5 separate regions of the Homo sapiens genome follow, and regions 2, 3, 4 and 5 are each linked to region 1. Evidence: fine-mapped expression QTL. A gene starts in region 1. Each other region holds a variant in brackets. All regions are shown on one strand. Distances are between the middles of the regions. Region 1 holds the start of SLC44A3 (solute carrier family 44 member 3). Region 2 overlaps SLC44A3 (solute carrier family 44 member 3). Region 3 overlaps CNN3-DT (CNN3 divergent transcript). Region 4 overlaps SLC44A3-AS1 (SLC44A3 antisense RNA 1). Region 5 overlaps SLC44A3 (solute carrier family 44 member 3).

Evidence for each region. PIP is the estimated chance that this variant, and not a neighbour inherited with it, causes the effect. A credible set is the group of variants that fine-mapping cannot tell apart.
Region 2: its variant is the best candidate, but not a certain one, in a credible set for the expression of SLC44A3 in sigmoid colon (GTEx, PIP 0.83).
Region 3: its variant is the best candidate, but not a certain one, in a credible set for the expression of SLC44A3 in breast (GTEx, PIP 0.79).
Region 4: its variant is the best candidate, but not a certain one, in a credible set for the expression of SLC44A3 in blood mononuclear cells (TOPMed, PIP 0.69).
Region 5: its variant is the best candidate, but not a certain one, in a credible set for the expression of SLC44A3 in thyroid (GTEx, PIP 0.81).

Annotation. Positions count from the first base shown.
Region 1 is chr1:94,816,510-94,822,716 of GRCh38, reverse strand. SLC44A3 (solute carrier family 44 member 3) reads right to left here and starts at 2,360. Exons shown (of 15, transcript NM_001114106.3): 1 at 2,239-2,360; 2 at 1,661-1,768. The coding sequence starts at 2,265. It overlaps SLC44A3-AS1 (SLC44A3 antisense RNA 1), which reads left to right and starts at 2,485. Exons shown (of 6, transcript NR_160780.1): 1 at 2,485-2,761. RefSeq lists a silencer at 2,167-2,356.
Region 2 is chr1:94,839,760-94,846,250 of GRCh38, reverse strand. SLC44A3 (solute carrier family 44 member 3) reads right to left here. Exons shown (of 15, transcript NM_001114106.3): 7 at 6,214-6,303; 8 at 4,127-4,251; 9 at 787-973. Among named protein-coding and RNA genes, the nearest start is that of SLC44A3, 23 kb to the right of the region's middle. The variant C/T (reference allele first, on the strand shown) is at 3,833.
Region 3 is chr1:94,961,325-94,967,815 of GRCh38, reverse strand. CNN3-DT (CNN3 divergent transcript) reads right to left here. Exons shown (of 3, transcript NR_168377.1): 3 at 4,546-4,837. Among named protein-coding and RNA genes, the nearest start is that of CNN3, 37 kb to the right of the region's middle. The variant G/A (reference allele first, on the strand shown) is at 3,457.
Region 4 is chr1:94,767,320-94,773,810 of GRCh38, reverse strand. The region is part of intron 1 of SLC44A3-AS1 (SLC44A3 antisense RNA 1); the gene reads left to right. Among named protein-coding and RNA genes, the nearest start is that of MIR378G, 25 kb to the right of the region's middle. The variant T/C (reference allele first, on the strand shown) is at 3,599.
Region 5 is chr1:94,858,297-94,864,787 of GRCh38, reverse strand. SLC44A3 (solute carrier family 44 member 3) reads right to left here. Exons shown (of 15, transcript NM_001114106.3): 11 at 1-45. Among named protein-coding and RNA genes, the nearest start is that of SLC44A3, 41 kb to the right of the region's middle. The variant G/A (reference allele first, on the strand shown) is at 2,684.

The sequences.
Region 1 (6,207 bases):
GGGTAAGTAGAGGCAGAGATAGTCCAGACTTTGAGACTTTGTTCCTTATGTTTAATGCAAATATAAACACAGGCTGGTGCTGCATTTGCAAGAACCATCTCTGCTTATAATTTCAGCTCCTTCCCCCAAGCCTTTGTCCAGCCCTAACTCAGGGCACACCATCACCAGTCAGGACATCTGTCACAAGACCTGAAAGCTGAACAACAGAGGCAGAAAAAAAAGTCCAAAAACAAAACACTCCTTGCTCTGTTTTAAATACCTGCAAATAAAAAATGTTGCAAAAGACACTAAAAGCCAGTGAGCTAAGAAAGGACTCTGACTCTTAAAACAGAATGCCATAGTGAGAACTTGGATATATTAAAACTTCAGACTTATTTTGCAAATGAAATGTAATTTTAAAGCAGTTTCCAGCTCCGTGCCACCTCTCAGCTGGTTCACAATTCTTCAGGCTGTGATAGGTCATCTACAAAGATTTTCCCCAGGATTCTCAGCTGTTGGGCTGAGAGTTTGGTAGTGAGGTCCTAGGTTGAAGCTGTGGAGGGGCTACGGCAGATCATTAAATCACAATAACAGCTTGAGGTCAAAGCTGCCAGGCACAAGGCAGGCCAGCTGCTCCCTGCATTTATACAACAGCAGTCTCAGATAAAAACACCAACCATCTGCGAAGTTAAGCAGAAGGTATTGTAGGTGCACTGTCTCTCCCAGCTCCTAGGGGAGAGTTCCAACGTAAGCAACAAAAAACATCTGATTATGTGTTTCAGACCTAACCTTCCACTGTGCCTGTAACCAAGCCTGTCTATGTGAAACGGGTCATAAGTGAACAAATGCCTTTCTTACTTGGAAAGAACAAACATGATATTTTAGGGCCTATTCAGATGGAATTCTTTTCAACAAAGGTAATTACTATCTGGTAGTTATTACCCTGCTCTATAAATTAATCATTTACCATGCAGCAAATAGCATGCCTTATCCTGGCATGGATGATTTCGTGAAAGTGGCCTTTGAAAATGTCGGGTGAGACGTTTTCTGCTGTTACCTACAATTCTAAAATAAGTATAAAAGCAGCAAGATTCGGCTTCCAACAGACTCTCTCAGGATTATAACCGCATAGCCTGATGGAGTTTACCAGCAATCATACATACCTCGAAATTAGAGTGGGAAAAATCATTCCTTGTTAGCTATGGTTAACAGTGTTGGCTGCTAAACACAACATATCTCTCGCGCGCGTGTGTGTGTGATGTTCAGCTAAAGGAAATGCAGTTTATTTCTAGGCTTACCCTGGCTTTTCCTTTGTTAAAGGTGCACCAAAAGCTTGAGGAATATTTGATTTGGGGGTGTGGCAGGTGCTAAAAGAACTTCTGTTCAGTAAGTTCGGAGAGTAAAAGGAGACACATTGGCCTTACTAAATAGCAATCACATTGCAAACTGTTAATTCCCATTTCCTAATGGAGTCACCCCTTAGAACATGGCCTGTAGCAAAAAGACAGCCTTTCTAGCGAGTCTAGGACAAGAATTCTCCCGAGTACAAACTGATGTTTATTGTGGGTTAACGGCAGAAGTCTCTCACTGCAGCACCAACTACGATTTACATTTGGGACAGAGTTATTTCCAGACGTGCACACACACTCTGGCCTCTTTCCTACCAAGCACCCACACTTACCAAACCAGTCCAAAAGAGAAAGAACAGGAATAACCATGCCGTATCTGTGCATTTCCTATAAATCTGGGGTCGCCACTCCCTTTGCCTAGGGGCTCCTTCTGCAGAAACCTTCCAGAAAAAGGGAGAGTTGAGAAAAAGAAGATAAACAGGTGGACTCAACCTGGAAACCGAACCCAAATCTACTCGAAGAGGGGCCAAAGTAACCAATCTTTTTCTAAATTTTTAAAATTAATATTATTTTTTTACGTGGCCACCTGAAGCTCTTTCACACAGCCTTTGAAACACCTGCTCTGCGCGGAGCGGATGTTAAGCCCCCTGCCGCCAAGTGCTTACCTGGAGGTGCACCTGAGGACGACCCCAAGTTTGCGCCCCGCGGCCCGCGTCTCCCCCGCCTCCGCCCCAGCACTGGAGCAGGGTCCAGGTTCCTCCCCGCCAGGTGGCCCCAAGGTACTAAGCGGGGGCGGGATCCCCGAGGCGCGGGAAAGGCGGAAGCGTCCGGCAGGGAAGGTGCGTGAAGGCGGGGGACTCGACCCTTCCCCGGGGCTCCTCCCCCGAGGGCCGAGGCTGCGAGCGCTTACCAGGTACTCGGCGCCCAGGCAGTGCATCGTGCGCTCGCCGGCGGGGGCCGGTGACTGGGAGCCGCCGCCGCCTCCTGTACGCGGAGACGCAGCGCCCGCGAGCCGGGGCCGGGGCCGGGGCTGGGGCTGGGGCTGGGGCTGGAGCCGGGGCCGGGCCGGGGAGGGGCGGGCACGGTGCAGCGCCGCCTCCCGTTCGCCTCTGCGCCTGGCCCGGCGACTGCGGGCGCTGCGGTCCACTGGGTCCGCCTCTTCCCGGCATGGGTTTCTGCCCAGCTCACCCGCTGTCAGCTGGGGTCCTGCTCTGGTGGGAGGAAGAGGCTCAGACGCTTCCCTGCCCTCTCGCCTCAACCACCTCGAGGCAGCGGCTCCCAGGATGTGCACTTTGACGACTAAAGCTGAGCCGGCGCCGCCACGACCTTGGGCGGGTGGTCGGCCTCTGCCCTGAGCAGGAAGTAGAAAGTCTCAGCAGACCCTTCCTGAGGGCCGAGCAACAGTGTAGTGGCGTATTCCACATAGCAAACAGGTAAGCAGCATTTACTGTGTGCTGGATTCTGTTCTCACTGCTATTGTTATTCCTAATCTACGGAGGAGGGAAACTGAGGCACGGCCATTGGTGATGCAACTTGTTCGAGGAGACCCAGTAAGTTGTGGAGGCAGGAGTCGAACCCAGACACTCCGGGAGACCGGCGCTCTCGAGGTGGTTTACTCTGACTTCTCTCCCACCTTGCCTTAGGACAATCATTGCCTGACTTCGCAATTGAAATGGTAGTGTCCACTGAAGCGACTGGTGGCATAGTTTTCCAGGTAGTGTCAGACCAGCGCAAAAGCACTGTTGGGGTGAGGAATTTAAAAAACGAAAAACAAAAAAAACTGCAGGCCGACCTCCCCCCACCTCCTCTCAATCAAGCCTCTACCCTTCCCCCTGCCACCCTTAGGGTTGCTAGGTTAATTGCTTCCTTTAGGTGCTGCTTCTCCCTAAGGGTAGAAACCTGACTGGAGGAAAGATCTGGGTAAGTGGGAGAAACTGGGAATGATAGACAGTGGTTCTCTGGTGCCAGCGATTTCCTTCTGGGCTCACACCACCCTCCCACTGCAAACTCACTGGGCCTTCCTGGATGCATGTTTATCAGACAGAGTAGGTGAAACCCCAGGGGAACATGAATTCATAGGACAAAGAATTAGACACTGGAGGAGTGCAACTACTGTTAAAAGACCACAACTGAATAACATATGCCATCTGAAACTGATCAGTAGAGCAGATGGACCAAGATTTTTAAATAAGCATGATAAATTTATTTAAAATGAGTTATGATATTAGCAATATGAATCAGGAAAAAATATGAAACTAAAACATATTAAGCATAAAAATAATAATTAGAATGAATATTGATGCTACGTATTAGTAATGTGCAATAGTCTAAAAGATGCAGCTGACGATGAATTAGTAATTGGAAGAGCACTTTCAGCAAACCTCCAGAGGCAGTAGAAAATGTTTTAAAAAACAAGTTAGCTTATTTGTAAATTTTCTAGCTTATATCTAGGGTAAAACTAGAACAGAAAGGAAGAAATATAAAAACAGAGAAGGGGAAATATTTGAAGATATAATGGAGATAAATTTCAAGGTAGAAAAAAACCTTCAGATTGAAAAGGTTTATCTCAAGCAAAATGTTTCTATATGTAAGTATTTAAAAGCATAACTTTGAACTTATTTTCTATTAAGCCATATTGTCATTAGAATGTGAGAATGTATTAATAATAAAAATATTCTTATGAAAGATTCATTTGAATGACATTCTTGGAGGACATAATCAAGCAAGAAGAGAAACAAATTCAGGAGATGATACAATAGATATAGCATGAGAGTGGCCAAATATTTAGGCTGAATTTATTGTTGTGTTAGAAAAAAGACCAGGAACCACCCAAGTGTCCAGGAACTGGTGGGTGGCTATACATAACTGTGATGCATCTATACGATGAAATACAACTAAGCATTAAGAAGGAACAGACTTCTTACATATGCAAAAACATGGATGATCTCAAATGCATGTTAAGTGAAAAAAAGTCAGATATAATAAGCTACTCTATGATTCCATTTATGTGACATTCTGGAAAAGGCAGAAAATAGATCAATGGTTGTCAGGTGCTGGGGGTGAAGGGAATCTGGAGAAACTTTCTGAAGTGATGGAAATATTCCATTATCTTGAGAATGGTACTGATGACCCAGTGGTATCTGTTTGTCAAAATTTGTAGAACTGTACACTAGAAAAGGTGAATTTTATTGTATGTAAACTGTATTTCATTAAACCTGACTTACAAAAACTCTTTTCAAAAGTCTAAAAACAAAGAACAGTGTATTTATAATGATTCAGACCTAAAATTATAGACAATATCAATATTGTGAGGGGTGTGGGACTCAGGAATGAGAGGCCAAAATGATAGGACAGTGATCTAAAATAGTGCCATTCAAAGGGTGGTTCACAAAACTTAATTGTTCTCTAAGAGATAAGGAGCTTGTACCAGAATGCATATCAGCTATGTCATAAGCAAACTCTTTGATTCAGCTGACACTTTCGTAGCAAGACTTTCTCAATGAAGGAAGCTGTGTGTTGATTTACATGTGGGCTCAAATCTCATTCTGGAATGGATGAGATAAGTAACCCAGTACTACTTAGAGTACTTAGAGTAGTACTGGGTTAAATTACTATCATATGGGAGGAAGACGAAAAAAATTGTTAACTTTAATAAATCAATAGGGATAAATATTTGTGAATGTAGGTCTTAAGGGTAACTACCGTTAAAAAAGAATAAAACATGTAACTTTTAAAGCAGTGGAAGAAAATTTTATCAAATGAAAGGCAAGAGAGCAGAGGAAAAAGGAATAAAAAGAAAGTGCAATAATTAGAATATATGAAATTTGATAGCAGAAATAAAATTACTAATAATAATTTTTACTTTCAGTGTACCTAATATGTTCCAGATACTTTTCTGGGTGTTTCTTATTTGATCCTCATAATAACCTTATGAGGAAGGTACTATTACTTTCATCATCCTCATTTTATAGATGATGAAACTGAGATTAACTAACTTGCTAGAAAGTGGCAGAACCAAGGCCTGAACCCAGGTGGTCTGGATCTAGAACCCATACTTAGAACCATACTTAGAGCTATTCTATGCTGCCTCCTAAATAGAGCAGCAATTACAATAAATGTAAGTGGCTTAAACTAACCAATTAAGAAAAACAGTCTTTCAAATTGAATGAAAGCAAGGGATTCAGCAATATGTTTTCTACAAGAAACTTGTGTAAAACAGACACTAAAAGGTTAAAAGGCTTGAAAAGGATATAGTGCAAATGTGAACCAAAGAAAGCTCATGTAGTAATTTTAAAACCTGACAAAATAAAACTTAAGATAGAAAGTTCATAAGGGAGGTCATAAATGTGCCCAACAATACAGCTTTAATATTTATTAAGCAGCAGCTAACAGAAATTTAGGCAGAAACAGATAAATCAGAATTATAGTTGGAGATTTTTAACTGGCTCCTCTCAGTATCCAATAGATCAAGTAGACAGTAGATACTTCCTCTCCTCTCCCAACACACATACACACAGAAAGCAAATATACAAGGTCTGTACAATTTAATTAATAAACTTGAGCCATTAGATATTTATAACTCATATACGTTTCCATCAAACAGTGAATACATGTCCTTTCTCTTTTCAGGTACATGTGAAACATTAAAGTAAAAACATAAACTGTGTATTAGATCTTAAAGGGAGGCTCAATAAATTTCACAGTGCAATAAAATTAGAAGTAATGAATAACAGTATGTGTGGTGGACAGATTTTAAGGCCCCTATGATTTCCACCTCCTGGTGTTTACACCCTTATGTAGTTCCCTTCTTCAGATATGGGTGGGACCTGTACCTTTCAACCAATTATGATGGTTAATTTTATGTATTATTTTGAATAGG
Region 2 (6,491 bases), 23 kb before region 1:
GGAGGAGAGAATCTTGTCTTTTCAGGACCAAGGCATGTGAACTATGAGTTTGCTTTAAATGTACACTGGCTCTGCTGGGCATAACACTTTTTTTTTTTTTTTTTGAGACAGAGTCTTGCTCTGTCACCCAGGCTGGAGTGCAGTGGCGCAATCTCGGCTCACTGCAACCTCCACCTCCCAGGTTCAAGCAATTATCCTGCCTCAGCCTCCCCAGCAGCTGGGATTACAGGTGCACGCCACCACGCCCAGCTAATTTTTGTATTTTTAGTACAGACGGGGTTTCACCATGTTGGTCAGGCTGGTCTCAAACTCCTGACCTCGTGGTCTACCTGCCTTGGCCTACCAAAGTGCTGGGATTACAGGCATGAGCCATAGCACCCGGCTGCACAATATATTTTTAATAGAGTCTTTCCTGGGTTCTTCTTTGTCACCTACTGATTTGATAGGGGTTGGCAAATTACCTTGGATAAAACTCATACCTGGAGACATCTGGTAATATTCTTGCTGTTGGCCTTTGTTCATATTGTAGTTTTTCCTAGAGCTTTCAGTCCTTACTGAATTTATTCTCTCATGAAACACAAACCCAGCTTCTTTAAAACCAATATAGAAGAGGTAAAAGAACTTCCCACTTTTCCCCATGACAGAGCCCCAAGCACCAACGCTGCTGTCATCAGACACCTCTGGCTCAATGAGGGGTTAGGTGCCTACAGAAACAGGCCAGTGGTTCCAAAATGGTCTTCTGTGTATGACTCCAAGGTGATGGAACCCACACCCACTGTCCCTTACCTGCAGTTCCCAGGCTCAGCAGCACAGCCACCCAGAGGACCCAGAAGAAAATGAGGATGGCAAATGTCCACAGTGGCTGGAACAGCAGGAAGGGAGCACTGCTGATGGCTTTATTTGTGATTTGGAAAAGCTCAACTGTCAATTTTATTCTCTTTCTGAGAACAAAAATCAAGACGAGCAGCACTGCCTGGTGAGAAAGGGATTTGAGTAAATTACTTCCAAATAATGGAGAACTGGGTAGAGCTTAAAGCAAGCCCTACTATTATTATGACATCTCAGCAAACAGCTCTTTTAAGATAGTTACTCACTACTTTGTTATAATTTTACAGATGCATTCGCAAACACTAACTGAGCATCTAGTAAGTGCTGGTCCCTGGAATAGATCTTAATAGACATAATAGCGAAGAAGACACAGTCCCTCCATAAAGGGCCTTGTAGTCTGGTCAGTGAAAAAGATAAAATGAGAATAAGGTCTTCTAATGTCAAGGAACTGTCTTATATCCTCCCCTCCACATCCCACAGAACCCAAGATATTGCAAAAGTCAAGGGAATATGAGTATGAGGCAAAAAGACTCAAAGCCACCTTCTGTGCCTTCTTCTAGCTTTCCCTCCCTGCATATAAACATTTACAAATCTCATATTAATGAAACAAACCATTCTGCACCCCTCCATCCCCATCCAGCCACTGCCGTCTCTTACTGTTTTCATGGCCGAGCTTCTTGGCTTGTCTACACCCATCATCTGTATTTCCATACCCCAACTCATTCTTCAACCACCCACAAACATCCAGATCCCAACACTCTTTTGAAACAGCTCTCTCTGAAGTCACTTCATGTGACCTCCTGAATGTTAAATGCCATGGAAACATTCCAGGTCTTGCTTGACTTCAGCATAGCATTAGATCCCTTGTCCACTCCTCTTTTCTCGAAACATTTTCCTCCCTTGGCTTCCATGATCTTTCTTTTAGCTCTCCTACTTCTTTAATTGCTGCTTCTTGAGATCTTCTGGGGGTATCTCCTATTCCTCTGTGCTTTCAGCATCCTTCCTAGATGCTGACAACCTCCAAATAAAAACCTCCAGCCTCACTTTCCTCTAGGTGCTGGAAGAATAAGCACATCAGTTATTGACAAGGCCGTGGATGTCCTACAGTATGTCAGACTCAATTTATCCTGAATCAAATTCATTATCTTCATACTAGAACCTCCTCTTCCCCCTGTATTCTTTACCTCCAGTGGCCCTAATTTTTCTAGACTTTCCAAGAGTAAGTTAGGTTCCCCTCTTGTGTGCTCCCATTTTATTCCACACTTACCCTATTGTACTATTTAACATATTCTATAAATGTTTTCTCGTCTGAATTTCCCATTAGATTAGGCTCCTAGAGAGCAGGGCCATTCTTATGGTCAAGGACTGGCAAAGTGCCCAGTACAGTCTCAATCACCTCTGGTTCAGTTTCCTCAATACCGCTCATGCCTTCCTTTCCTCTCTGTTTCCACCGCTGATGCCACAGCTCAAGTCTCAGCCTCTTTCTTCTAGACCCCAATAACCTCATTAGCTTTCTGCATTTAACCTCCCTGACCACCCCCCCCACCCCGCCCCACCTCAGTCCCTCCTCCACTCCACAGCTAAGGGGACCTTTGTAAAGCGCAAACACAAAGATGGTGTTTCTCGGCTCAAAATCCATCTACGGCACCCCAGTGCCTCTGGAGAAAGATCAAACCTATCATCATTGCAGATCAGGACCTTTGTGACATGACCCTCCCTGCACCTGCATCTCAGGCTTCCATCAAGGGAACTTCCTGCAAGTCACACCCCTGCCCATGTGACCTCATGCATGCTGTGCCCTTGGCCTGAGATGCTCTTTCTCTTCCAGCTTTGCTGGAGCGTTTCTGCCGTCAACAGTCAAGTGGAGGAAAGACAGTGACAGTGGATAAACTGCAGAAGCTGCTCCAGGATCTGGGAGCACAGCCTCCTGACCATGCAGGGAGAGGTGTCAGGAGAGGCCCCGCAAGACACCCAGAGGAGACCCTTCAGTTGTAAAGGCTGAGGAGGAACTTCCATCTGGGCTTTTCTGAGGATGAGTGAACTAGCTCATCTAGCAACCGGGAATTGGTAAGAACTCACAACAAATGAACGGGAGGTGAGCTGGGACTCAATTCTGCCTTATAGAGTAGCCCCTGTGCAGAACTCATGGACCCAGGTGAAAACAGCCTCCCTGCTCACATGGCCTCCCCTCTCCCTAACCTTGCCCCGGCCCTGAAATCTGGGTGGCATAAATGGTGCAGTGTACAAACAAAAAGGGAGCCCTGTGGAGGGTAGACGGAGGAACTGGACCCTCCCCAGCCCCCAGCCCTGCTCCTCTTCCCCTATGCCCAGCCTGGGGAATGGGGAAGCCCTTTCATCTCCAGCCTCCTCTGCAGACTCTGTTGAGTGTCTGGTCTGGTCCCTGCCTGAGGCGAGAGCAACCAGGTGCTTTACTTTATTGTACCCTTACTCCCTGGCACATTTTATGTGAAGATCACAAACCCAAAACCTCACCGTGGAAAGGAGAAAATGTGAAAACTACCAAATATGAGAATAGAAGGATTTCCTATGAGAGAATTTTGTTGGTGTGAGAATCTGCATTTGCTGCAAGATTCAATGGGCTTGTGGAAACCCCTGGCTGCAGCTGCTCCACAGAACAGTCAGTAAGCAACACACCAGCAACGACGACTCTGGGGGACCTGAAGCCAGTGTGGGGTCCGCCCCAGGGCCTTGTGATTTGAGCCTTCCTAACGGCCCCTGGAGAGGGTCCTGAATGACATTTGGTTGCCAACCACCCACCACCAGTAACTAATACCTGCTCCCTCAATATTCTAAGTCAGCCTGTTTTCAGCTAGAGAGTTCACTGAGGAGGCAGCAAGTTCTCTGAACACCAAAATAACCCAGTGGCCAGCGGGTTTGGAAACAAAGGGCTCTGTGTGCTAGAGGGCAGCGGAAGCTGAGCATACACTGGCAAAGGGGAGCCGCACCTCACAAACAGGGAATGGGAACTGCCGTAAGCCTGCCT[C/T]CGCCCACCCACCATGCCCACCTTGTAGCCCCTTGGGGCTGAGAACAGTGCAACAGCAAGGATAACACAGTAGTCTCTGGGAGGTGGCAGAAATGACTTGGGAAGAACTAAAACCTTTTTTTCTTATTTTTGAAGAGTTTTGAATTATCCCTATACAGGTATCTCAAATCCAAAGAAGGCACATTCTAAATCAAAAGAAAAACAAATTATAGTTGTTTTTGGCTAGAATTCAATGATTTGGATTTCAGAGTCCTGGCTGGCTACCTGACCTACTGCTAGAAGAGCATTTCTTACCGTGATGCCTGTGGATACGATAGCAAACCCCAGCACGCACTTCATATTTTCCCTTTCTGTGTCCAATTCTATGCTGAGGTCGTTGGTATAGTCATAATACAGCCACCATAAAACACCGCAGACAACTAGAAAAGAGAACAGTAGCAGAGCTCAGGGCACACGCCATGAGGTAACCTTTCCCCAGCACACAGAATCACACAGGAAGTCCAGCCACTGCCCACCGGCCGCGTGGCACTGCTCTGGCAGTGGGTCCCAAATACCCGGACCCTACAAGCAACTGCTGCCCTCTGGAGAAGCTGGGCAGAGCCAGGGCAACCCATAGAGGACCCACAAGTTCTGGGATGATGCTTGTTTTGGGAGACCCAGGATGGTGACCCCAGAACACAGGCACCTAACCCACAGGTTGGGTCTGGATGCGAGCAGGAGGAAAACCCCATGGACAGGATGGTGAGAGGGACAATGCCAGAGCTCACTGTCTAAATGTTTTAAGCAAGCTCTGGTGGTGATAACTCCTGTGGAGCCTGGATATTGGCTGCTCACCCACAAAACCAGGAAAATTTACACGGCCTGTGGGAATCATGGAAGTCAGAAGCTCATTTGGAAGATGCCCTGACATTGCAAGTACTCCACATTTAGGTACGAAATACCACCTTATGCCATATCCACAGTAACTATAGGAAGGTTGGAGTGGACAGGAAGAAACAACCCTCAGAAGTCATTGTGCCTGTCCTCCGACACAGGGCTACAGGGCTCTAAGTTGCTGAGGGCAGAGCTGATGACTCAGGGGAAAGAAACATGACAATCACATCAGTTTTTAAAAATTAAAATATAGTCATCCACTGCATGATGACATTTTGATCAACAATGGACTGCATATATGATGGTGGTTCATGAGATTAATAATACTGTACTTTTCTGTGCTTAGATGTGTTTAGATACACAAATACTGACCATTCTGTTACAGCTGCCAACCGTATTCTGTACAGTAGCATGCTGTGCAGGTTCGTAGCCTAGGAGTAATAGGTTATACCATGTGCCTGGGTGTGTAGTAGGCTCTACCATCTAGGTTTGTGTAAGTGCACCCTGTGATGTTCACACAATGAGGAAATTGCTGAGTGATGCATTTCTCAGAACACATCCCTTCCTGTCATTAAGTGACACCTGATTGTACCCCACACCAGTTGGTAAATGGCTGCTGCCTTGAGCCTCCTGCGTGCCCTTGTCCCTCGGACCTCTTTCCCAACAACTGCTGGTGAGATCCACAATCCAGCAACCGGGAGGGAAATATGGGCACAGTACAGGGTCTCCAGGACTCTGCTTCCATGCAGGCCTGTGTGTCTTCTGGCTGGTCAGAACCTTTACATGACAACTGTGGGCACCCACGTGCCAATGGGTGAGGTGCGCATTCAGAAGAAATCCTTTAAAATGCTCCCAGTGGGTACTGGGATTCTCTTTTAACGTTATGGATACAGGATCACGGTATTGGAAAGCTCATCTCAGGGGCAGCATAGCACAGCAGAAGAAACTACAGATATGGCTGGACGTGGTGACTCATACCTGTAATCCCAGCACTTTGGGAGGCCAAGGTGGGCGGATCGCTTGAGCTCAGGAGTTGGAGACCAGACTGGGCAACATGGCAAAACCCCGTCTCTACAAAAAATACAAAAATTAGCTGGGTGTAGTGGCATGTGCCTGTAATTCCAGCTACCTGGGGGGCTGAGACAGGGGGATCGCTTGAGCCCAGGAGGTTGAGGCTATAGTGAGCTGCGTTCGCGCCATTGCACTCCAGCCTGGGCAACAAAGTGAGAGCCTGCCTCAAAAAAAAAAAAAAAAAAAAAAAAGGAAAAAGAAAAAGAAAAGAAAAGAAAGAAGAAAAAAAAGATTGGTCATTAACTTTGCACTGTCTGTGAGACATAGCAACTCCCATCGTCCTCCCTGAGGCCAAGTTTTCTCATTTGTAAAGTGACAGGGCTAGATACTCTTTAAGACTCCATGTAGCTTAAAAATGCCAACTTTTAAGTTCTGTACTTAATGTAAAGGCTTTTCATTTAATCGAAAAGAAATCAGTCAAGTAGAGAAATACTTACACAACAATCCCAAAATAACCAATGAAATGAAAATGTGAACCAGAAGGGTGGTGATGAATCTGAAGGTAAACATCATGGCCAAAGACAAGGCTGAAAAATTAAGCAAAACACATAAACCTCAATAGCAACAAAGGATAGGGGAGATGATGGTAGTACTGCGATGACAAAACCCTCCAGAACAGTGACGGCTGAGGATTGTATTCAATCTCTAAATATCTTGGGATATCTACTAAACACTAAATAAAAATAACAAGGTATACGTGGGGCAGTCTCTGATG
Region 3 (6,491 bases), 140 kb before region 1:
GTTTTCTTAAAAGACTGCCTTTGTCCGTAAACCAGTGAGAACTCCTAGAAGGATTTATAAACCACCAGGAAAAGTTTTCTGTTTCTGTCCTAAAAACACTGGAGTAAGTGGCAACAGGTCTTTGGGGAGCTGCCCATACATTCTTCATATCAACGTTGGCTAGAGTGATCTGATTTGAGCAACAGAAGTCATTGAATTCTTAGAAGCATCAGTGATTTTTGTGGAGGCTCTAACTTGGTATCAATCTTGACAATTGTGATTTAGAATGTCACGGTTTTTATGAATTTGTTGTTCCCTCTATTGTCTAGTCACATAATTAAAGTATCCAAGGGCTACCACATGAATCCTTGTTTTCTTAGGGACTTTTCTATTGCAAACAAAGAAAGAAAGAAAGAGTCGTGACTTATATAAGAATGCTGAATGTATAGATTTAAGTATAAGGCAATGCATGTTAAAAGGTATATTCCAGTTCTGAAAAGGAAACGAGTCAGTAACAATGGAAGGATTTCCTTACATTTTTCTGCTACTGTTCTGGAGAGCGGCACAGTGGTCTCAAACCCAGATTTGTTTAACCAAACCTGTTAACATGATATTTTTCATAAATTTACTGGATTGTAAATAGGAGTTAATTTACTCCCTATCCAAATTATATATTAAATATTTTGGAATACTAAGGCTCTGGCTTATACCATTGTTTGCTGTATAATATAGTCAGTAATCATATGTCCAACATTTTTGGATCTTGTTTTCCCCAACTTCTAAGCCAGGGATTCTTAAACTGGAGTCCATGGAAATGGCTATGACTTTGGGGATTTACGTGTATCTATGTATTTTCTGGAAGACAGCTATAGATTTCATTAGATTCTCTGTATACCTTCCCCTCTCCCCCTGCAGAAAGATACTAAAAGATTCTGAGGCTTTTTAGAGAGGGGCTCTTCCAAAAATGAAGAGTATAAAACTGTCTCTGGTGGCCGGGTGCGGTGGCTCATGCCTGTAATCCCAGCACTTTGGGAGGCCGAGGCAGGCAGATCACAAGGTCAGGAAACTGAGACCATCCTGGCTAACACAGTGAAACCCCGTCTCTACTAAAAATACAAAAAAAAAAAAAAATTAGCGGAGTGTGGTGGCACGCACTTGTAGTCCCAGCTACTCAGGAGGCTGAGGCAGGAGAATAGCTTGAACCCGGGAGGCAGAGGTTGCAGTGAGCTGAGATCACTCCACTGCACTCCAGCCTGGGTGACAGAGCGAGACTCCGTCTCAAAAATAAAAAAACAAAACAAAAAACAAAAACCTGTCTCTGTGGACAGCGGAATGCCAGAAAAAAAGATAGAAAACAAGATAGTAGATTTTTTTTTTAAGAAAATGGTTTTTTTTTTTTTTAACAGAAATCTGCCTTGAATTTTTTTCTCTCCTGAGCCTCTTGGCCATTGTTAATTGTTATTTAGTATTCTTCACTGTGAATTACTTTGTGGGTGACTGTAAATTACTAGATTCTATTTTAACTAAAGGAGCCAACACAGCAAATTTATGTTCTGTTATAAATTAAGTAACGTGATGACATATGCTTAGTGGTTAGACTGACATGCAAAATAAATCAGATGTAATCATGTGAATATAAGTTTGAGATACAAAATAGCCATTATGGGGTTGAAACAAAAGACAGAACCATAGGAGTAGTAGTTTGCCAAAGCACAAATAAGCTAATTCTGCTTGCAGTCAGCAAAAGAAAAATAAATTAGATATTTTTCTTCTTCTTTGAGTACCACCAACAGAAGTTACTAACTCAGATGTGAGGCCAGGTGCGGTGGCTCACACCTGTAATCCCAGCACTTTGGGAAGCCGAGGGGGGCAGATCACCTGAGGCCAGGAGTTCGAAACCAGCCTAGCCAACACGGTAGAACCCCATCTCTACTAAAAATACAAAAATTAGCCGGGTGTGGTGGTGTGTGCCTGTGATCCCAGCTACTCAGGAGGCTGAGGCAGGAGAATCGCTTGAACCCAGGAGGTGGAGGTTGCAGTGAGACGAGATCATGCCACTGCACTCCAGCCTGGGCAACAGGCCAGGCCATCTCAAAACAACAACAACAACAACAAAAAAAAAAAAACCTCGGATGTGAAAACACAGAATTTAGAGATAGAAGGTCTATAACTGGACACCTCACTTATATTTTTAGCAGGTGAGGACACAGGACCAAAGATACTCCAAGACACAGGTGGCTGGTCACAAAAGCCCTAACTAAAACTAAGGCATTCTAGCTCCTAGGCCGACTTTCCACTCCACTGCATTTTACCCAAAGCACTAAAGAGAGAACAATTGACTTTTGAATTATCATGCAGATCTATTAAAGAATACACAGGCCGAGCATGGTAGCATCTGAAATCCCAGCACTTTGAGAGGCTGAAGTGCGAGGATCACTTGAGGCCAGGAATTCAAAACCACCCTGGACGACATAGTGAGACCCTATCTCTACAAAAAATTTTAAAAAATAGCCAGGAGTGGTGGTGTGCACCTGTAGTTTCAGCTACCCTGGAACCTGAGGAAGGAAGATAGCCTGAGCCCAGGAGTTCAAGGCTGCAGTGAGCTATGATCATGCCACTGCACTCCAGCCTGGGCAATAGAATGAGACCCTGTCTCTAAAAAAAAAAAAAACAAAAAAAAAAAACTACACAATTAAAGCACATTTATAGTACCTGAAACTCAGATAACAGCTTGACTACCATGAGAGCTAAAGAGATACCGCCTATCAATGAATAAATGACAACAAGAACACAAACTAAGGCTAAATTTTGTCATTCTGGTTTTCAGAGCAGAAGCTAATTTTTTAAATTGACTTTATTAAAATCATTTTCTTCACTTAAATTTATACTTACCCCGTGGAGGAGATAAAATTAAGGAAATGAAGAACTCTAACTTTTTTGAACATGGGTTTCTATACATTTGAATTTTCTCCCTGATCAGGTTATTATCTGTTATTTTTTTCTTTTTTCTTTTTTCTTTGAGACGGAGTCTCCCTCTGTTGCCCAGGCTGGAGTGCAATGGCACGGTCTCAGCTCACTGCAACCTCCACCTCCTGGGTTCAAGTGATTCTCCTGCCTCAGCCTCTCAAGTAGTTGAGATTACAGGTGTGCACCACCACGCCTGGCTAATTTTTGTATTTTTAGTAGAGACTGGGTTTCACCATGTTGGTCAGGCTGGTCTCAAACTCCCGACCTCATGATCTGCCCGGCCTCAGCCTCCCAAAGTGCTGGGATTACAGGCGTTAGCCACCACGTCCAGCCTCATGTGTTATTTGCATAATTTTGATTAAAAAAAAAAAGACTCTTACACCTTGAGGTTTTTGTTTGATGTGCTGTGCTTCTCATCTACAAGTTTGACACTAGCAGTGGACTATTTTCTACACTTAGCTTATCAATGGAATTCAAAAGAAAAGAAAAATGACATAATTTTATTTTTGG[G/A]GAAACTCAGTCTTATTTCCTTTCTTGTGTGATTCTCCAAGGAAAAATGGAGACCAGAAATTTGGTTAAAATATAACTTATAACTGGAATAAATTTTGGCATCTTTGGGGCCAACCCACAACTCAGAGGGAAGCCCACTCTGGAGGCTAAGAAACTCCCAGGGTTAATTGCAGCTAGTAAACATGGATGGCAGGGCTTAAATCCCTGCCTCCATTCTCGTATTTATCCTCCCATTACCCACGGTGATTGCATTCCTGCAGTCAAGGGCATAAGTCATCCAATTTTACTTCCCATTGGTTTTCTATAGCTCCCATTGGGCTGTCCCATCGGAAGTCATTTGTTATGAGACAGAGTCTTGCTCTGTCACCTAGGCTGGAGTGCCTAGGCGTAATCACCGCTCACTGCGGCCTCTGCCTCCAGGGCTCCAAGGCTAAAAACTTTTCTAAATGTTATTTTTGGCTGGGCGCAGTGGCTCACGCCTGTAATCCCAGCACTTTGGGAGGCCGAGGCAGGTGGATCACCTGAGGTCAGGAGTTCGAGACCAGCTTGGCCAACATGGTGAAACCCTGTCTTTACTAAAAATACAAAAATTAGCTGGGCGTGGTGGCGCATGCCGGTAATCACAGCTACTCGGGAGGCTGAGGCAGGAGAATTGCTTGAACCTGGGAGGCGGAGGTTTCAGTGAGCCTAGATCGCACCATTGCACTCCAGCCTGGTGACAGAGCAAGACTCCATCTCAAATAAATAAATAAAATAAAATAAATGTTATTTTCCATACTTCAGGTATGTTTTGTTCTACTCTTAAGGGGAAAAAAACAACCTATGTAAACTAAAATTCAGTAACCCAGTAATTCATCAAGTTTCTCTGTTATCTTAGAGGCACTATAGCAGAATGGTTTAATACCTGGACCCTGGGGTCAGGCTGCCTGGGTTCAAATTCTGTCTTGCTTTTTACCTGGGCAGGCCACTGCACTTCACTGTGCCTCAGTTGTTTCATTTGTAAGGTTAGGATTATAGTTGTAACATCTTTATAGGGTTGTTTTGAAGATGAAATGAGTTAATAGATGTAAAGCACATAGTAACACTCAGTAAACACTCAATAAAAAGCTTTATTAACCTTAATATGTTTCTTCATAGCCCTTGTAAAACCCTAGCCACTCTTTTGCAATAAAGCATTTTCAAAAAGTACCATCGATCCGGGGTTATCTCTGTGTTCTTTTCCTGGAGGATCCTGAGTGCGGGCTGTGTCGACATCACGTCATTAATGTCTTCTGCTCCCTGCACTGTGGTCAAAGGCTTTTCAACGTAGCCTTGGATCCCCTGGGTTTGCTGCAGTTCAGTGCACCTCAAAGCACGATAACAGGAACTGAAATGGCAGAAACTGAAAGCAAAATAAAATTCAGCCAGGAAACACTTAGCTGTTTTTCCCTTTGCTCTGCATGGGGAAAAAAAAAAAAAAAGAGGAGGAGATAAATCGAAAACCTGTAAAATCCAGCATGTACTTCAGGGTTGTTTTAATTTTCTAAATATAAGTACAGTCTTCATTCCTCCCTCCAGCAAATATCTATTGAGTGTTTACTGTGGTGTGCCCTGATTCCCCATAGACATCTGGTGGCTATCTATCCTGGATTTTCTAGAACAATCCTAACTTTAAATGTCTTTGGTGTCTTTTCATGAAAATACATTTAAAAGGCAGTGGAAAAAAGCCTTTCTCAGGCCCCATGGCCAGAGTTTTGTTCCATATTTACTTTCAGCTGTGTTTCTGTTTTCCCCAAGGTCAGGAGCCGCCCAGTAAAAAAAAAAAAAAAAAAAAAAAAAAAAAATCTCCAAGTCCTGAAGGTACTGCAGGAGCCAGGATAGGGAAATTACTAGATGGTATTCTCTGTTTCTCCTCTGGAGAAAGAGTTTTAAGGGTTAAAATTTTCATCTATAACCGTGGTTGTTTCTTTGGGGCTGGCAATACTGAAAACTAACTTTTTGTATTATACATTCTTATAATGTTTGGTTTTTTTACACTTTTTAATGAGATGTATTACTGCGATAAGCAGAAAAGAAAATAAAAGTTTTTTAAACTACTGACTTACTTCCACAAATAAAATAGACATTCTCTTTTTTAGCAACCCAATAACAAGGGGTAGTGAAAAATGATATGCTCCCTGAAGACAGGGACCGTCTGCTTTTCTCATCTTAGCATTCCCACAGAGGAGCACTGAATAAATATCCATCAAAGGAATGAACAAAGGCCTCCTTCATATTCCTTAAATCATCTTTACTTTCCGGAAAGGAACATGGTAGCTCACCTTAACCATGCCAAAAAACATATACTTTATATAAGTCCAGATTTACACACAAAGGATTATTTACTTGATGAAGGGATTTACCAGATTCCTTTCTACAGCAAAATCTCCTCAGTCGATTTAAAGTGTGACTTGATTTGCTTCATTTTTCTTATGAGATAGTGGAATAAATGAGAACTTCGGTAAACCAAGAGCCGGGAGTGTGAACCCTGCCTTAGCCTCTAGAGTAGCTGAGATCACAGGCGTGCGCCACCACGCCCAGCTAATTTTTTTTTTTTAACCTCTGACCTGTCGTGTGTCCTTGGGCAGGTTTTTTTGTTTGCTTATTTTTTTCACCTCCCTGTGTCTTAGTTATCTCTACTCTAAAATGAGAATAATTGGAAGGGTTATAGGTACCATATTAAAGCCCCTGGGACAGTGCTAGAAGCATAAATATAAATGGCAGCTGATATTCTTATTGTTTATTAAACCTTTTCAAAGTATCCAATGCATGAATTGAAGTGTAATTGCAGTGATAACCACAGGCCCCAAAATGTATCATGGAGGCTAAAACCTAATTGGTTTAAAAAAAAAAAAATCAAGCTTTTTATGCTTCATCCCAGATAAGTGATTTAAATGCTTAGACTCACATCGTTTCATGCTTGGAGTTCTGAGAGCACAAGGGGCCCCCTTTACTTCCTTGTTTATGTGACAACAGGGGAAATCTCATCATCCTCCCCTCGCCAGGCTAACTTTTTG
Region 4 (6,491 bases), 49 kb after region 1:
GCACCCAGAATCTTGAATTGAAAGGGGCTGAAATGAGCAGCTTGCCGGCCTCCTACAGATACTGGTGTCTGAAACCACCATAGAGGTTTAGTTGGGTGCACATTTGCTGTGGAGGAATAAGGTCTTAGCCAGTTGGGGCTGGTTTATCTTTAGGGTGGACTGCTGGGCAGCAGGCATGGGAGAGGCACACCCCAGTTCAGCCTGTTCCTCAGTACAGCAGCCTGCCTTGTTTTCCCTCAAGGCGGGTCTGCTTATGTTGACATTGATTCTCCTTGCAAAGTGACGCGTAGGCAGAGCTTCATTTACAGGTGATTATCAGTAAGTCCTGGGTTTCCATGAGATCATTTTGCTTTCTCCTGGGAGGTGAAGCCTCTTTCCTAACTCAGGCTGTCTCAGGGTTTTGCAGCCCTCTGTCACAACGAACTCATCAGTGGCTATTTCCTTACGAAGGCTTCTGATAGGTTCACATGCCAGAGTTTCCAACCTTCACCAGCAGCTCAGATTTATGCCCCAGTGAGCGAATGTACTCAGTACTAGTTCCTTCCTATCAGCTTAGGAAAGTGTGTAGTTCAAGGATTTAAATCATTTAAACAAACTTAATTGGGAAAAACAGACACTTTAACTTTCTACCTGATGTCCCCTTTGGTCCAGCCTAGCCACCTCCGGATTTATGATGCAGTGAGTATTGCTCTGTTATTTTATCTCACATATTTTCATGTTTCCTTTTTTTCTTCTTAACTGAGACCACAAATTAGAAAAAACCTTCAGATTCACTTCCTGCGTTGTACACTTGAGCACACAGGCCTAGGGACATCGATTGCCATACTTGAGATCATGCAGCTATTAAGGGGAGGGGATGAGCCAAGGATCCAGGCTCTTCTGATGCCCAGCTCAGGGCTCAATCCACACTGGCTCCATCTTTACATCTAGCCCTGGGTGTTCTTTTTTTATTATTTATTTTTTATTTTTTTGAGTCTCGCTCTGTCTCCCAGGCTGGAGTGCAATGGTGCGATCTCAGCTCACTGCAACCTCTGCCTCCAGGGTTCAGGTGATTCTCCTGCCTCAGCCTCCCAAATAGCTGGGCCTACAGGTGTGCACCACCATGCCTGGCTAACTTTTGTATTTTTAGTAGAGACAGGGTTTTGCCCTGTTGGCCAGCCTGCTCTCATACTCCTGACCTCAGGTGATTAACCCACCTTGGCCTCCCAAAGTGCTGCAATTACAGGCGTGAGCCACTGTGCCCGGCCTAGCCTTGGATGCTTTACTGCATCCGTTTCCCCAACCATTCATGGCTTTGTAACTAGAGCACAGTGTTCTTTCTGTAGAAGGTACTTAAGGAAAGTGTTGCCTAACTTTTTATTTGCTTGGGGTTGAAATGTCAGCTTGCGGGAAATGCTCTAGAAATGTGTGGGGAAACTCTGCTAAGCACCCTCCATGACTCTCTCATTTGGTTTTCAAGGACTGAGGTAGTGATGTCATTCATTCTTGAACAGAAAGAACTAGCCAAACTTGTTTTCAGAGTCTAACACTTTGAATAGAGGCTAGAATTCTCTTACTGACCATCACGCCATGTACAAAACATTGCCAATAAACTGCTGAATCTCTGCATCTCTTGGGCTTAAATGGAAAAGCGTCTTCTCCAACCTGGGGAATAAAGTATAGGCTTTGTAATTTTATGTAAGGAAAACCCAATACTAGTTACTCTTTCTGGCATGCTTACTATGTGCCACATATATGGTGCCTCTATTATGCTGTACAAATGTTAATTCATTCAATCCTTGGCCTTAAGTGGTAAAATTTATATTATTCTGAATTTTATAAAGGAAAAGAGTGAGGCTCAGTTGCTTTTCCAAAGTCGCACAGCTAGAAAGTGGCAAAGCATGGAGTCAAATTGACTATAAGCCCTGCAGACCAGAAAAGGTGACACTTTGCCTTTGAAGACACAACAAGAGGGCTTTCCTGGATGTCTGCCAGAAACTGCTGTCTTCTGGCAGGTTCTGGGCCTCTATTTTCCATGTTCAGACTCCTAAAGGGAACAGGAGAACACTTGTTTATTTCTGTCTTCTTCTGGTCCCACTTTTACATCCCATCCCCATGGGAGGGTAAAAAAAGAAGAGGAGGCCCATCCACCTCCACTTCTCCTCTTGATGTTTGCACCAGTGGCCATAGAGATGGGGACAGACCGGACTCTGGTGCCATGGACTGGCACATGGTCTCAAGTTTCTGGCCCTGGGGTTGGAATACAGTTCCACTTGCTCTGTAGGAGATCAGAGGGATGCTATTTACAAACATTGAGTTATGTGAACTCATTTCAGTGGATTTGGGAAAATTACTCTCCATGGGAATAAAAGTTATCAAGAAAGAATTTTTAAATACTCTATATATTTGCAGGTCGAATTTATTATTTCCTAATACAACTAATATAATTATCCTCTCCCATGTTCTTCAACAGATGTATTCCAGAAACATTTTGTCTGAATCTTTAAAAGACTGCTTTGCTTTTTCTGATATCAGGTCAATAGAGAAATGTGCCACCCTGCTAGTAAAAGCCAGTTTTTGAGCAATATCTGCATAACTGTTAAATGTGTTATTATTATTATTATTTTTTGTCTAACTTTCATCCTGCACTCTTCAGCAGAACTAAAGATACTCCCTGTTCCAAGGAAGCTCATAATCTAATAATGCCATTGGAAAGTCACTTGTTATTAGTGTAGGCCTTTTGCAAATACCCTCCAAAAAAAGCTTAATGTGAGTTTTAATCCAGATAAATAAACCTATTAAGAAGGAAAAGGAGAAGGAATAAGTCTCATGAAGATTTACTACTCTTGGAGTTTGTTTTCTTCGCTGTAAGGAAGAGTTGTTCCCCATTGCTTCAATCACAAAAAACCATTAAACATAGACCAAGAAGGGGGAAAAAAACCTTACAAGATCACTTTATAAGGGACAATAAGTACTTGAAAATTAGAAAACATCCCTTTAAATTTGGGAAGTCTTTAAGTGCTCTGGGTGAATACATGAGTGGTAGTAAAGAGTGAAGTGTGCAAACTCCAATCTACAGTCAATTTGGCAGCAGAATTCTCAGTGTGCTACGGAAGTAAGCAAATGTTAGAGAGGTAAACAGATTCCAGATTAACTTACCTGGAAGAGTCTCCAAGAGCAGCTGGGAAGCAGAAGAATGCAGCTCCTTTCTTGCCATCTGGTTTGACTGGAAATCCACTGGTCTGGTGGTTCCATTGGCATGGGGGCATTACCCTCCTCCCCTTCTCCCCAAACCCTTCAAAATTTCCAAGGAAGCCTGTCAAGCTCAGTTAAGACTCAATGTGTCCCCAGGGTCCTTTTTTGCCACATGGAAGAAGAGAGAATGTGTCTTATCTTGATGATTTTCTTCTAATCAATTTGAGTGTCAACAGCTAAATTTGAAAAATAGAATGCAAAGTGAAGACTAGATTTATCATTGTTAAGCTAGGAAACCAAGAGTCTGCATTTCTGTATTCTAGGGTGAAAATGGAAATTCACCTGTGGAACTCACTGGCCATTGTGGAAGAAACAGTAAGATGACCCTCCCTTCATTATGCTGGCCAATATGGTATCAGATCAC[T/C]TTGTGTTTCCACTTCAGAACTTTGTGGGTGACTTTTGTTCACTGTTGTATCCCCAGCACCTAGAGCAGTGGCTCATGAAAAATAGAGTTTCAATAAGTATTTGTGGGAATGAATGAACGTTTGATCAAAAGAGGTAATTCTCTCATGCTGCCAAGATGAATGTGGGGGCTTGGAAATGTGTTCCTAGAATCCTGCATTGGAGATTGAAACTCAATTGGAGCTTTCCTATGGAAGCAATGTTACATAAAGTGATTGGGAGTTATTGAAATAGTGCTCTTGGCACCATGATAGCTGTAGGCACTTGTGGCTTGGCATGATGACTTTGTTATAGTCTATGTCACTGTTTCCATGGGAAAATACATTCTGGGTCCCAGGACTTGGCTTATAAGTGACTTTGGAAATACAAACCAGTCTTAGTTGAGACCTGCCCGAAACTTTGGTTTGACTGTGGCTGTCTTGGAATGTGTCCAAAATAAGGCATTGCTAGGAAACCTGAGTGGCCTTTCTTCTTGTGGCTGGTTCCTACCAGGAAGGGTGGTGTCATGTCAGGAATGTAGACTTGAAGTTTGTAGACCATACCATGCTAGCTATGACCCTTCCTTAAGTGGCCTAAAAAGACTAGAGGATTTTTAATGGACTGGGGAAAGGTCCTTCCAGGTATGTTAATATCCCAAACAATTTAGCTACATAGAATGTGGCCCAGAAACATCACAGTGGGTCACCAGCAACCATGACATTCAGTGAGGTTCAGAGACAATCAGGGTATTATCCTAGAAGATCATAATGTTGGGTATAATATTTGTGGCATAATTGTTGTTTAATCAGCTCTGGGATATGGCTGGGCTATCTTACAGAACAAACAGCCTCATGCACGCTGATGCACATTTGAAGGAATATCCTTCATGTAGACTCATTCAGACATCCCAACCTGCTTTTCTGCAGATTGGGGGTTGGTGTGAGGAGCCAGTAGTCTCAGACAGCACTAGTATTGAGGCCATGGATGTCCAGGGAGAAGCCTGGCACCTTATTCTTTGGCATGAAGACCGTGGGGCCTCAAGGGAAGGTGGAAAGTCTAAGGCTCTCTGGTCATAAGATAGGGTCACCTGGTGATGGAAGGGCTGCAACTGGCCCTGAGAGGGTTCCTGACTGACCACACAGATGTACTTGCTGGGACATGAAGAGATGTCTCTGCCATGAGGCTGGTGGGTCTTGGCAGGGGACAGGGGCAGAGTTGGAAACAGAAATCTAACACAAAGGTGAGAGAGTGATTTTAAGTTGTTGGAGGAGTTATGAGATTCTAGCCAGGGTGTAGGGAATGAGGTAGGGGTGAAGGACAGCACTGACCTCTTGAATAAGGGCAGTATCAGTAGATACTGTGTCACTGTGTCCCCTTCAGGGGCCCCTCTGGCAGTGAACGAGGCTAATACAGTGTGTTTCTGCTCAGGCTTGTTAATGCCTTTCATTGCTTTCTCTCTGTCCACACAGGAGGCTGCTTGTGTTAGCCTCATTTTCGGTAGACTCTACTCAACTGTGGCAATGATGGGCACCTGTAGTACCAAGCTCATATCTCACTAGATTTGCTGCAAAGAAGACCAAGCAAAGTTCCAAGGCTGATGCTTTGCAGCCCAGAATGGATCATGACTATTACCTTGATTGGCCAGGCCTAGGACGGGGGTAACCACTCTCAAGCCCTTGGACTGAGACTGGGGGAAAAGTGGTTCCCCAGGAAAAACTGAGTTCCTATTATCTAAAGAAGACATGAATATTCAGCAGAAAAACATCACATTTCCACACTTTTAAACTCTGAAATATGTGGCTAGGTATAAGTCAAAGCCAGAAATTAAATGAGGGAACAGTTCTCTGAGGCCTTCACGCAGCTGTTAATGTTCCTAGAAAGTGAAGGGGTTTTCCCTGATCTATTCTATAACGTATCTTAAGTAGAGTACTTTCAAGTTCTTGTCCTGGAAAATCACCACATGATTAACAAACCCATAGACTGGAAAATTGGGGAAGGGCAGGCAGAAGACTACAAGAGAACTCTTGTACCCTTTCAACAAATAGGCAGCATCACTTAGCACAAAGGAGGAAATGAAGCAATAATTGAAACCATGAAGTGGGTATCTTTGTATGCGTGCATGTTGTGAAAAAACGTGCATCATCCACATTAACACATAGCCAGATGAAAACCCAAGTCATCTCCTTTACTGTAATATTATTAGAAAACAGTGATACTTATTATTTCTTCATCACTTTCTAAGTTACGGGTTAATCTAATCTTGCAATGAGATTCTTCTGCATCAGGTAAAGTTACTCTTATTCTTCAATGATACCTCTTCAAAGAGTCTTTCCAGATTCATGTAGGGAGGGATCTTTTTTTCTCCTTCTTGGTAGCTGCTCACTGCTTTTTGTGCATGCCAGTATGATAGCACTTGTCGTGTGGCACTGTGATTTTTTATTTGTTCAAAAGGCTCTATCAGGCAAGAGCTATGGGCTTTGAGGTGCATCACTTGACTTCCCTGAAACACAAACTGGTAGAATAACAGTTCATCCCTCTTAGGGGTATTGCAAGAATTAAATTAAATGAGCTGTTGCATGAAAAGCACTTAGCATAATACCTGGCTTATAGTGGGAGCCCAGTAAATATTGGCAGTTAGCATTTTAGTGTTTATTCTCATTAAAATAATAATGATTATAATAATTATCATTGCTATGTCCTCTACTAGGTGGAGAAGTGCTTGAGGGCAGGGACTGTTCTGAGATCATAGTAGGTACTCTGTGGAAAAAAAGGAGGGAGGAGGGAAATAAAAAATGGAAACAACAAAGAGGGCAGCAATACCAGGTTTGCCCAGAAGTGACAACTCTAGGTAGCCAGAAATAGCCTCTCCAGCTAGA
Region 5 (6,491 bases), 42 kb before region 1:
GAGAGAGACGAAAGGATGGGATGATCAGGAGGATCATTTTTACTTCTGGAAATAGGGAAAAGGATAGCATTTTAAAAACACTTTTTATAAAGCAGCAAAAGCTCTCTGGTTCCAATCATCTGTGGTACTAACAACTTAGAAAGTTGTGACATAATAAGCATTTGGCGAACTTTTTATACTCCTTGGTAGCTTCGGTTAAATTGTTTCTTGTATTAATTTAATTCGTTTTGGTGCCACTTAATGCTACAAATAAAACAGAAAAAATTTAAAAAAATTGATGAGTTAAAAAAGTTTCCCTCTTCATAATGCAGAGCCCATCCACCAACCCTTTAGGGTGCCTATTCATCTCATTTTCACTTTCAGAATTTTAATTGCGGCACAATCTCCAAGGTTTAACTTACACAGGAGTATACATAAATATTGCCAGCATTCACCTGGTGATTAAAAATCATCACCAAATCACATGACCAGGATCAGTGGCCAGAGAGGTAATAGTGAGCTCCCACTTACAGGAAAGGGACAGAAAGCCCTGGGTGCTTGGCTCCTACACAGCTCTAGGCTCCCCAAATCCTGCTGGTTTCTACTCTGCTCTTTAAAGGTCACTTCAGTGTGAATCATTTACGGGACTTGTCATGACGCAGCTCCCAAGAATGTGTACAAGTCAGTTTCACAGGCAGGGAAAAAAAAGTGAGAAAGAACAGAATGGGCACAGCCATCACTCTCCCCTAACCCTGAAAGATAAAACAAAGGAGTGGGGGCTGATGCCACCCCACGGGTGACCCTTTGAATTCCCGCTGAAGCCAGTTCTAGAAAATAAGGTCTTTCTGAGAAGCAACTTCACAGATTCCAAGTGAAGCTTGGTTTCTTTATAATGGATTATTCTACAACTTGCTCTGGTTGCTAATAAGTCACTATGAATTAAGGTTTTGACAGCAGCCTAGGTTTTGAGAGAGGAAAAGGAAGGCAGCCAGAAATGTTTCAAGAGTTGGCAATGGCTGCATTTTGCTGTTACTCAAATCAGCCAGGAAGAAAAAGAGAACATGAAAGTAATATTGGGAGCTGAAAAACTGCAACCCAGTTGTCCCACAAAAAAAAAGGATGTGTGTTTCAACACAGTGTTATTTAAAGTAGGAAAAACCACGGAAGCTATTGCTAATAGGAATTCATTTAGATCTGATAAACTAGAAGAGTAGTGTAGGCCAGGAAAATCTGACACACTTTTTTTTCCCTTCCCTCATTTTTCTTTTTTTTTAAGGAAGAACGTTTACTTTTCCATTGAGGAGATTTGTGTGCCTTAGAACTTATTATGGTGCTCAAGAGGGGAGGCAGGGAGAAGAGGACAACACCTGCTTTCCATCTGGTAGGGAAACACATGATTCATAGGCCTCTGTGAATGAGGGCCTTGGGGTTAGCCCTCCAGGTATTAGAGTTTGGGGTTAGGCATCAGCTTTCTGAGGTTTCACTGTGATGGGGTTAACCACTTCAGGCAGAGGAGTACCTGCACTGCCTCAGCTTCCCTAGTCTGTAACACATCCTGGTTATGGCTGGAGGCTCTGCCTGGCTTGGCTGGAAGAAGATGCAGAGGTTCCAGAAGCTGGGTTATCACGTGATGGGAGACGGAACTTAAAAAGAGGGCCCTTTCAACCCAAGCCAGCTCTTGGAGCCAGGAGTCACTCAATACCTGCCCTCAAAACTAGAAACAGCCCTACAGAAAAAAAAGGCTAATGAAGTGGTGTGTCTCTGAGGCCCCCACCTAGTCTCAGACTCATTTCCATGTTCAAAGGTAACGTCATCCTACCACCTCTCCCCTGCTGTGTGTGGGGCTAGTGCCTCCAGCTCTGTCTCCCTCACAACCAGCCAAACCTGCCTTCAGGAAGAGGATCTGACACACCCAGTGATGCTAAATATAATACTTACCTCTGGACTTATTCATATTTTAAGAATTGACCTGGGGGACAACATTCCAGTGTTGAGCATATGGGGCAACCCAGCGATGAGTGTATTAGGAGGCTGGGGAGGACTGGGCCCCCAGTCAGCCTTCCTCATCTCTCTCTAGATCTTCCCACTGGACCACATCCACCCCAATTCTGTGGGTAGTGGCAATAAGGAAGACACGGGCAGTGTTAGAGGGTAAGGCGACTCTAGCATATGCCCCATGAAGCCCAGCTTCCCCCTTCCTTTGGATGTGTGGCTGCTTTGAGTGCTAATGGTGCCTGGCTCCCAGAACAACGAAGCCAGTTGCCCAAAATACCACATCAATCCAAGCTGTGGGGCAAAGGGTTTAATGGTCCCATCCATCCAAGTCCTCTAACACCTTTGGGTCATGGTACAAAGTACTGTTTTGTAATTTCTACTCCCATCAGACAACAGAGTGCATACAGCCAGGCAAGCCGCATCATGGTCCTAGAGACAAGCTTTGGCTCTAGTTAGATCCAGCCTCGTGCTCACTAAAAACTCTTCTGACATTATGGAGAATTAATTTTGTGCTGAGGCTCCTGGACTAGGTGTGGGCTGCATGGGACAAATGGCCTCCAACGTAAAGCTGGTCCCAGCAAAGGACTGTGTGGTCCCTGTAGAGACCATGTCTCTTCCAGTATTTCTTACAACAAAATCACTGCAAGATGGGGTTTGGAGGGCTGAGAAGGTTGTATGTTTCTTTCCTATTCTACAGAAAATGAAAATC[G/A]TCTTTATTAGAAAGAAGAGGATTCTTTAGCTGGCCTGGGTAACTCTTGCTAGGTTAGGAAATTCATCTATCTCTACCTAAATTCCTTAGGCTCTGCTATGAATCCATTTCCTCTTCTCCATCTGTAGATATAGAGCAGCTGGAAACCCTCTTTTGTATATTTGAAAATGATGATGAAGTCACACCTCAAGTGTCCCTCCACCACCCTGAAGGGTTCTAGCTCCTTCCTATCACATCCCTAACACCACCTTTATGGCTCTCAGTTGATCCTTCTTCAAGCAAATGGTTGTAAAAAGTAAATTCTACAGATTGCCCATATCCTGGTACCTGATGGTATTTGTATGAACTCTTCAGCCCTCGTAGTGCATAAATGAATGACAAAGATGAATGCACCCTGGCTATATTTAATCCTCACCCTGAGTGCAGGCCAGAAAAGGATACGAAGAATTGTGAACTTTGAAGATTAGGAAAAATCTTGAGGTTTCAAAATTAGGCAGAAAATCAAAAAGGAAGCAGAGCTCTTTAATAAATGCAATAGTTGTGCTAAAAATAAATCATTGTGTGTTATATTATAAATTAATTTTTTTTAATCAAAGTAATATGTAAAGTGTCTTACAAAGCCAAAAATCACTGCTAGGCTTAATAGGAAAAACAGCAGTTTTCTTCCCCCATTCATAATTCTCTCTCCCTGAGATAATATTTTAGTTGTTATTAGAGAACTCACTTCCACACCTCAAAATTACATGTTCTTACTGCTATTTCTTGGTTTTTTGGCTTCAGATATTGTCTACTGACTTTTCTACTATGAAAGATTCTGGTTTTATTTTCTTACATAGCCTAACTCCCCCAATCTCCTCACACTCATGTTCCCATTCTTCCAATGTAATTACATCAAAGCTTTTAGTTAATGCTTAGTGTTTGTTATTCATACATAAATAATATGTGCTGTAAATAATATTCACAACTGATCTAAGTAGCATATTCCAATTAGATTCCCTTCCTGTACAACTTTTTTTTTCTGAAGTTAATTGTTTCACATTTTTTTATTAGCTTGGATTTCCATGGGCCTCACCGAACGCTTCACCAACGTGTAATGCTTTTCTTAACGTGTTCGAACACACCTGGTATTCCCTCAGTTCCATTTTCTTTTCATGGTGACATCTCTCCTGGAGCCCATTGTCTACCTTGGACTGGACGCTTTCCACGCCTGCTGCGCAGCTACCCTCCTGGGAATTCCTTGCTCTGCTCTGCTCAAGCCTGTTTTCTGAAACTCATGTTTTCCTCTCTGGCTTACACATGAGTTTCAGTGGGGAACATCCCTGCTAGAAAGGATGAGGGCAGGGAAATCTTGGGACTGCCTGTGCATGACTTTGTTCTTCTTTACCCTTGACTGGTAGTAAGAATAGGTATACAACTCTATACTAGGTATAGACTGGCTATACAATTCTAGGTTGGAAATAATCTTTCACTAGACTTCTACAGCCTTCCTTCACTGTTTTTCTGGTTCAGAGTTGCTGGTGAAAGTCAGATCCTATTCTGGGTCCTTGATCCTTTGCCTGTGATCTTTTTTCCCTCGGGAAGCTTCTGGAATCTTCTTTTTACTTGTGTCCTCCAGCCCTGGCAAATTTTCTTTGTTAATTTCCTCTCTTTCTTCTTTTCTTTGTTCTGTATTTCTGGGCTCATATTAATCAGATAGTGGGTCTCCCAAATTTATCCTCTTTTAATCCTTTCTCTCTTATTTTGTGTCTCTTTGTCTTTTTATTCTACCTTCTGAAAGAGTGCTTCCACTTTATATTTTAATCCTTCAATAGAAAATGTTCACTTTTGTAATCATACTTTTAATTACTCAAGAGTCTTGTTTTCTCACTATGCCCTTCTTTTGTTGGTGGGAGGGGATCCTAGCAATACATCTTTGTTCTCTCTGATAATATTATAGTTTGCTTTGTTGTTTCCTTTTGCAGCCTGCATTGTCTCCGTTTTCCCTAAGCTCATTTTATTTGTTCATTTTGATCTCTTCTTTCACTTAGAGGCATTCATCATGTTTAATAATCACTGGTAAACAGTTCAAATTGAAGAGTGAGGCTCTCCAGAATGACCTGGAAGCTCTGTGTGAGGCATGTTGCTTGTTGTCTGATGAGCTTCACTGTTTTGCTAGGAGTCAGGGAATCCATTTCATTGGGGGACCCCATATGGCACTATCTGTAGGTCTTTACTTTGGGTTAGGCAGTTTCTCCACAAAAGCATCCTCTAACCTCTTCCTAGGGAATATCAAATGAGCTGCCAACATTCTGGGAGCTGAACTGTGGAATGTGGGGTGCTGGTGTATGTGGGGGACCTCATTTCAGTGTTTAGGCTTTCACTTACTCCCCCTGCTTTCAGTACAGAGACTTGCCCCCAGCCTCAGCTGTACCTGATACCCCAAGTCCAGGCCCTCTCTGCTTTCCCTCTCTGGAGAACAAATTTTCCTGTCTTCAGCTGGTGTGGAATTTGGGGGTCTAACTACTCCTGAGGAAGGCTTTCAGCTAATCTTTGGAAATACTTTTTATACTTGAATTCCTGAGCCTCTCTGGGATTCTGTGGCTCACTTCAGGCTGCATCTTATTTGTCCTCCTCATGCAGCCAACACACACGGACAGGCTGCTTCTGCTTTCTCCAGCGGGCTTAGGGCACTGCTCCACCTCCCTCTCTTTGGCTCTCACCATTTGGTTGGTGTTTCTTATCTGCTGTCATTGCCTCTCTGTTTCTTACTGTCCTGGTGTGTTTGTGCCTGTTTCAATCTTTCATGATTTTTTGAGTGGCTGGAGAAAGGGAAGAGATTAGGAGATAAATGCATATGCTTCACTGGAAGTCCAAATTAGAAGTCCTCATTGAAAATGCTTTGATTTTGTTATTCTAAGATAACACAAAATTACTGTCAGGCAAATATTACCTGCTGGCAAATTTGGTTAGAATACTCTCTTTGCTCCCCTACCTGGGAGGAAGCAATACACACAACCCACCCCCGGCTGCTTGGAGGTTCTCAATGCCAAGGGCAACAGCCCCTCTGTGAGTCCTCTGGAGTCTCTAATGATGGAGGCTCCGGAACTGCACCACTACATTAAAAACCCACAGTGGTGGCCGGGTGTCGTGGCTCATCCTGTAATTCCCAGCACTTTGGGAGGACTAGGCGGGTGGATCACAAGGTCAAGAGATCGAGACCATCCTGGCCAACATGGTGAAACCCCAGCTCTGCTAAAAATACAAAAATTAGCCAGGCGTGGTGGTGGGCGCCTGTAGTCCCAGCTACTCGGGAGACTGAGGCAGGAGAATCACTTGAACCCAGGAAGCAGAGGTTGCAGTGAGCCAAGATCGTGCCGCTACACTCCAGCCTGGGCGACAGAGCAAGACTCCGTCTCAATAAACAAACAAACAAACAAACAAACAAACAAACACCCGACAGTGCTCCTTATCATCAGGAGGAAACTGCTCAATGGCAGGAATCACCCCTGGCAGATAGTCTCTCCCAATGAAGCTCATGTTTCTCTCTCATTTGGTCTGAGAGGCTGGAGGAGGATCAGCCCTATGAAGAGTAAACTTCTCTTTCTGAGCCCAGTCCTGCCATTGCCCTGGCTGGGTTCCTCTGTCCTGAGGGCTCTCACTGCCCTGGGGTGAGTCACACACACAGAAGAGGTAAAGCGTTCAGGGGTGTGTGTGTTTGTGTGTGTCCTCAATTGCTTTCATGATGTGATAGGGATATAAGCAGAGAAGTGTGTAACTAATTCACTGGTTCTTAACTATAATATAAATTATATTTTGTAATTACATACAA